Linked DNA regions of Homo sapiens. The protein of the gene in region 1 purifies or fractionates together with the protein of each later gene. This does not show direct contact. Each region holds a gene or a part of one and is shown in the gene's direction. Other genes may lie near its edges. The genes, in order: RNPC3 and P4HA1.

Evidence for each region.
Region 2: the proteins of RNPC3 (region 1) and P4HA1 purify together in Homo sapiens (affinity purification with mass spectrometry; one large-scale study listed by BioGRID and IntAct). This does not show direct contact.

Annotation. Positions count from the first base shown.
Region 1 is NC_000001.11:103,546,076-103,549,903, forward strand, and holds part of RNPC3 (RNA-binding region-containing protein 3), read left to right. Parts: intron 1-172; coding exon 173-267; intron 268-901; coding exon 902-960; intron 961-3,828. UniProt on the Homo sapiens protein: Participates in pre-mRNA U12-dependent splicing, performed by the minor spliceosome which removes U12-type introns. U12-type introns comprises less than 1% of all non-coding sequences. Binds to the 3'-stem-loop of m(7)G-capped U12 snRNA.
Region 2 is NC_000010.11:73,006,700-73,010,177, reverse strand, and holds the end of P4HA1 (prolyl 4-hydroxylase subunit alpha-1 isoform 2 precursor), read left to right. Parts: intron 1-274; coding exon 275-371; intron 372-1,885; coding exon 1,886-1,956; 3' UTR 1,957-2,961; downstream 2,962-3,478. UniProt on the Homo sapiens protein: Catalyzes the post-translational formation of 4-hydroxyproline in -Xaa-Pro-Gly- sequences in collagens and other proteins.

The DNA of each region.
Region 1 (3,828 bases):
TTAGTTCATATGAAAATGAACTAATTTTCATTTTATGTTAAAGTGAAAATTTTAACATTTTCATAAAGCTTATTTTGTCTATTTAACAATTAGGTTTCAAAATTGTAATTATCTTTAAAAACTTGCTTAAAATATTTTAATTTTATATCTTTGTTTTTTGTTTTTTAATAAGAAATGGAAACACTTTCAGTTTTCAGAAGTTATGAACCGGGTGAACCAAACTGTAGAATTTATGTAAAGAATTTAGCTAAACATGTTCAAGAAAAGGTAGGTATAAATTGATTTTTTTTCATGTAAATGAAAATAATTTGAAGGTTTTATAGTTGATGTGTTAAAGTCTGTTTGAAACTACCTTTAAGAATGTGGTTTTCTTACTGTGCTTCAGGGCATGACAAATTATTGTTTAGTATTTTCAGGTTAATTTTTTATTAAAATAATACTCTCATAGCTTGGGTTCTCTGGCAGTAAATACTGAGACAGAGTTTGTGGTATGTATTAATTTCCTAGGGCTAAGTGGCTGAAACAACAGAGATGTGTTGTCTCACAGTTCTGGAGGCAAACTGAAGTCAAAAGTGTGGCAGGATTGGTTCATTCTGAGGGCTTTGAGTGAAGGATCTGTTCTGTGCCTCTCCCATAGCTTCTGCTGGTATGCAGAAGCTGGCGAACTTTCACCTTCCTTGGCTTGTGGAAGCATCACCACAATTTCTGCCTTTGTACATAGCATACTCCCTTTGTGAGTATCTGTCCAAATTTCCCCTTTTGAAAGGCCACCAGTCATATTAGATTAAAGCCTACCTTAGTCCAGTATGACCTCTTCTACTGATGCATTGATGTATTTATTTATTTATTAAGTTTTTTTCCCCTGGCTTTGTTATTTGTCTTTTTCTTATTGAAATTCTAGGACCTTAAATATATTTTTGGAAGATATGTTGACTTTTCATCAGAAACACAGCGGATCATGTAAGTGACAGTAAAATACAATCTTCAATTATATTTTGTTTTTATCTATTACAAATTTACCACTATTTTAATCCCATCATTTTCCTTTTAGAGATAAAAATTATATGAAAAAGTTCGTCTATTCTGTTGCACAATTAATCTTTTAGATGTCTAGAATAGGAGTTGGCAAACTTTTTCTGTAAATGGGCAGATAGTAAAAATTTAATATTTTTATTTTATTGCAGACCATACAGTGTCTGTTGGAATTACTCAGTTTTGTAGTTGTATTGTGAAGGCAGCCATGAAACCTGAATGAATATTCATGGCTGTGTTCTAATAAAACTCTTTACAGAAACAGGTCGGTGATGGATTCCGACCGTAATCTTCCCTCTAAATACATGGTTCTCAGACTTTAACATTGCATAAGAATCACCTGGAAAGCCTGGCAAAACAGTTTTCTGGGCCCACCTGCAGAGAGTCTGATTTTCTAGGTTTCATGGGTAGGACTCATGAATTTGTTTCTAAAAGGCTCCTGGATGATGCTGCAGCTTCTGATCCAAAGACTATGCTTTGAAAACCATTCTTTCAATGCATCATCCAGGAATATGAAGCAATGAGTCAAAACTTTTTAGATTCTTATTCTGACAGTAGATTGTCATCTTTTAAAAGAACTGCATTGAGCAAGGCTTCCAGTTTTGTAAAAGCAAAAGAGAGGGTTGTGATTTATAAATGTTATAAAAGCTAATGTGTTAGTCTGTTTTCACACTGCTGATAGACATACCCGAGAATGGGCAATTTACAAAGGAAAGAGGTTAAATGGAAAACTCACAGTTCCACCAGGGAAGCCTGGATCCAGGCATTTCCATATATCCTCTGAAATCCAGGTGGAGGCTCCCAAACCCCAGTTCTTGACATCTGTGCACTGGCAGGCTTATCACCATGTGGGAGCTGCCAAGGCTTGACGTTTGCATCCTCTGAAGCCACCACCCAAGCTCTTTGTTGGCCCTTTTCAGCCACAGCTGCCGTGGCTGGGACACAGAGCACCAAGTCCCTAGGCTGCACACAGCACAGGGACCCTGGGCCCGGCCCACAAAATCACTTTTTCTTCCTAGTCCTCAGGTGATGGGAGGGGCTGCCATGAGACCTCTAACATGCCCTGGAGACATATTCCTCATTTTCTTGGGGATTAACATTGGGCTCATCATTACTTATGCAGATTTCTACAGCTGGCTTGAATTTCTCCTCTTTCTTTTCTGTTGCATTGTCAGACTGCAAATTTTCCGAACTTTTATGCTGTGTTTCCTTTTAAAACTGAATGTCTTTAACAGCACCCAAGTCACCTCTTGAATGCTTTGCTGCTTAGAGATTTCTTCCGACAGATACCCTAAATCATCTCTCTCAAGTTCAAAATTCCATAAATCTCTAGGTCAGGGGCAAAATGCCACCAGTCTCTTTGCCAAAACAAAGAGTTTGCTAAAACATAACAAGAGTCGCCTTTGCTCCAGTTCCCAACAAGTTCCACATCTCCATCTGAGACCACCTCAGCCTGTATTTCATTGTCCATATCATTATCAGCATTTTGGTCAAAGCCATTCAACAAGTCTAGCGAGTTCCAAACTTTCCCACATTTTCCTGTCTTCTTCTGAGCCCTCCAAACTGTTCCAACGTCTGCCTGTTACCCAGTTCCAAAGTTGCTTCCACATTTTTGGGTATCTTTTCAGCAGTATCCCACTTTACTGGTACCAATTTACTGTATTAGTCTGTTTTCACTCTGCTGATAAATACATACCTGAGACTGGGCAATTTACAAAGGAAAGAGGTTTAATGGAAAACTCAAAGTTCCACGAGGCCAGGGAAGCCTCACAATCGTGGCGGAGGGCAAGGAGGAGCAAGTCACATTTTATATGGCTGGCAGCAGGCAAAAAGAGAGAGCTCGTGCGGGCAAACTGCCATTATTTTAAAACCATCAAACCTTGTGAGACTCATGTACTATCATGAGAACACAGGAAAGACCCACCCCTATAATTCAATCACCTTTCACAGCGTTCCTCCCATGACACATGGGAATTGTAGGAGTTACAATTCAAATGAGATTTGGGGACACAGAGCCAAACCATATCAGCTAATGTTTGGAGTTAGAATTTCATTCTTTACAATACCGTATTTGTTAATTCCAAAGTATGAAAGACTCCCTGTCATATAAATTAAAAGTAAGAAGAAGTAGAAAAGGTAAGAGGCTTTTGAGTGCAGATAAAATAAAGAAGTGACTATAACTAAATTTTGTTTTAATCTTCAAGTGACACCAATACTTTACAAATCTTATCTGGCCTATGTATTTTTTTAGATAGGTATACACAAATGGAACCGTGTTTCACAATTCTCTATTTATATCCATTAGGGGCAAATACCTCTTCTTACCAGAATGCCAAAATATATTTTTTCTGCTGGCCATGCAAAATGCTAGGTCTTTTTCTTTGTTGCCATCTTTGAGTCATGATTATAAGGAAAAAAAAATTACTTTACTGCATTTTTTGATAGTTTTTTATGTATTACTTTGGTAGTCTCATAGACTAAATATTAGGTAATATTTCAGTTGCAAATTACAATCTGATTTTTCTAAGTAGCTTTTGACTATGATTTTCTCTCAAAAATTTCAAAAAATGGATACATGGAATAGTAGATCACTATATTAGGAATTTAAAAATTTGGTTTGTGTTTCTGACTTTAGATCTTAGCTATCTGCTTTGAAGAGTCACTCACTGTCTCTGGACATCACCTGTAAAATTATGGTTTTAATTAGATAATCATTGAGGTTCCTTTCTACTCCGAAGTTCTGTAATTGCTTATAATAATATAATGAACTCTAGGCCAGGTGTGGTGGTTCATGCC
Region 2 (3,478 bases), on another chromosome or scaffold:
TGACCAACATGGTGAAAGCCCGTCTCTACTAAAAATACAAAATTAGCCAGGCCTGGTGTTGCACGCCTGTAATCCCAGCTATTTGAGACGCTGAGGCAGGAGAATCACTTCAACCTGGGAGGTGGAGGTTGCAGTGAGCTGAGATCGTGCCATTGCACTCCAGCCTGGGCGATAGAGCAAGACTCTGTCTCAAAAAAAAAAAAAAAGTAATAACTACCGAAAGCAATTACCTGGCATTGTATACTTGGGGATAATTGTGAATTGTTCTCCATAGGGAACTGCTGTTTTCTGGTATAATCTGTTTGCCAGTGGAGAAGGAGATTATAGTACACGGCATGCAGCCTGTCCAGTGCTAGTTGGCAACAAATGGGGTAAATATTTCATATATTCTGCGAAGATAATGTAATTTTTGTTTCTTATTTTGGAACTATTATCTGTGTCTTAAAAACAAAAGCCCCCATGTTTGCTTAATATGATTTTAACATTGTACAGGATTCAGCCAAACAAGTGCCTAATCATAATACAAATTTGAAATCAGAATTTTGATGACAGATTTTATTTTTAACTATTTTTACTTATTCCAAGAAACAATGACTGACTCAAAATTGAATAAGACAATATCTTCCCCTCAAAGGGTTAATAATCTGATTGAGACATACTAATGGATTATAATGTAGTACATATTAATACAAAAATGTAAACAGAAGATGGTGACTGCCTAAGTTTGGGGAGTCTTCTTCAAAGCTTTTTCTTTAAATTTGGTCCTGAAGATAGAACAGCAGTTTTCCAAACATGTTAGATACCAGGTTCTAATGTGAGGCTCGAGTAGCACCTAATGTGCAAAATTTAAAGAGGCACTCACTCTCAGTCAGGGACATGCAAGTGCAGGACCACATTTTTAAAAAGTAAAAAGAAACAGGTAAAATTAGTTTTAATATCTATTAATTAGCCCCATGTATCCATTTCAATCTGTGTTACTAGCCACATGTTGAGTGGTTACATACAGGACATTACAAGGTTAAGGAGTGAGGCCTGATCAGGATTTTAAAATCTCCCCTTATGATTATAGTGTTTAAGAACCACTGGACTAGAATGAGGAGAGGCTAGTTGGTGAGAGAGAGTTTAGAAAGCTGTTTTCTGTTGTCTAAGTGGGAGATGATAATGGCCTGGATTAAAGCATCAGTGAAAGGGTTGGAGAGCAAATAGATTTGAGAGAGATGTAAGGAAAATTGTCAGGGTTTGATGAATAAAGTGTAGATACAAGGGTTGAAGAAGGAAAAAGAGTTAAGAATTAAGGTTCCTGCTTTAGATATTTTGACTGGGTTCTATGGTACCAGAGACAAAAAAAAAATAGAAAATTAACTGCTTTTGGGATACATTTTTACATGGTATACATTTTTTAAAGGTATTTTGGAAACTTGATGAGCATACAATAGCAATGGTTGATAAGAGAGTTGTTCCTTTAGAGTGCAAAGTTTGTGTTCATTATTGTCTTTGTATTTTGGAGGCTGTACTTTGAAAACAATACATAAAGCAATATTCTACTCTTACCTGTACCTGTATCTTAGGTCCATTTGTGTCTCATTTCAAGCCTCACATTGAACATTGGAAACTGTAAGAAATGCACATAGACTGGCAAATATACATGTGTATACATACATGTATGTACATACACGCACACAAGTGTGTACACATATGTATATAGGTATATAAAATCTGTGTTTTCAGCATTTAGCCAAGTTTTTAAGTAGCATCTGCCTTTATCCGGTTTTGGTGTTGAACTTTTATCCCATGATGAAACTTTGTTATAGACCTAGCTTTTAGAAACTAATTAAATACTGATTAGATTAAGGGGGAAAATTAATATATTACTTTTCTCTCACAGTATCCAATAAATGGCTCCATGAACGTGGACAAGAATTTCGAAGACCTTGTACGTTGTCAGAATTGGAATGACAAACAGGCTTCCCTTTTTCTCCTATTGTTGTACTCTTATGTGTCTGATATACACATTTCCTAGTCTTAACTTTCAGGAGTTTACAATTGACTAACACTCCATGATTGATTCAGTCATGAACCTCATCCCATGTTTCATCTGTGGACAATTGCTTACTTTGTGGGTTCTTTTAAAAGTAACACGAAATCATCATATTGCATAAAACCTTAAAGTTCTGTTGGTATCACAGAAGACAAGGCAGAGTTTAAAGTGAGGAATTTTATATTTAAAGAACTTTTTGGTTGGATAAAAACATAATTTGAGCATCCAGTTTTAGTATTTCACTACATCTCAGTTGGTGGGTGTTAAGCTAGAATGGGCTGTGTGATAGGAAACAAATGCCTTACAGATGTGCCTAGGTGTTCTGTTTACCTAGTGTCTTACTCTGTTTTCTGGATCTGAAGACTAGTAATAAACTAGGACACTAACTGGGTTCCATGTGATTGCCCTTTCATATGATCTTCTAAGTTGATTTTTTTCCTCCCAAGTCTTTTTTAAAGAAAGTATACTGTATTTTACCAACCCCCTCTCTTTTCTTTTAGCTCCTCTGTGGTGAATTAAACGTACTTGAGTTAAAATATTTCGATTTTTTTTTTTTTTTTAATGGAAAGTCCTGCATAACAACACTGGGCCTTCTTAACTAAAATGCTCACCACTTAGCCTGTTTTTTTATCCCTTTTTTAAAATGACAGATGATTTTGTTCAGGAATTTTGCTGTTTTTCTTAGTGCTAATACCTTGCCTCTTATTCCTGCTACAGCAGGGTGGTAATATTGGCATTCTGATTAAATACTGTGCCTTAGGAGACTGGAAGTTTAAAAATGTACAAGTCCTTTCAGTGATGAGGGAATTGATTTTTTTTAAAAGTCTTTTTCTTAGAAAGCCAAAATGTTTGTTTTTTTAAGATTCTGAAATGTGTTGTGACAACAATGACCTATTTATGATCTTAAATCTTTTTTAAAAAAATGTTTGTTTTCTGTGTGGTGTTTTTCGTATTTAAATCCGAATGTATGATGTGGCAGTAACAGGTTAACTTATGTAATTTCTTTAGTACATAGGGCTTAGGTTTATACTCTTGGTTTCCACTCACACTAATGTCACATGGTTAAGAAAAACTTAGGCTCTCTGAAGTTTCAGATATTTCATGAATCAAGATGTGCTTCCTTCAAAGAGAGCTCTAAAATACTTTACTGTGGTTATGAAGTTATTATGGGCCAGGCATGGTGGCTCACGCCTTCAATCCCAGCACTTTGGGAGGCCGAGGCAGGCGGATCACCTGAGGCTAGGAGTTCGAGACCAGCCTGGCCAACATGGTGAAACCCCATCCCTACTAAAATTACCAAAATTAGCCGGGTGTGGTGGTGCATGCCTGTAGTCCCAGCTACTTGGGAGGCTGAGGCAGGAAAATCGCTTGAACCTGGGAGGCAGAGGTTGCAGTGAGCTGAGATTGCACCACTGCACTCTAGCTTGAGTGACAGAGTGA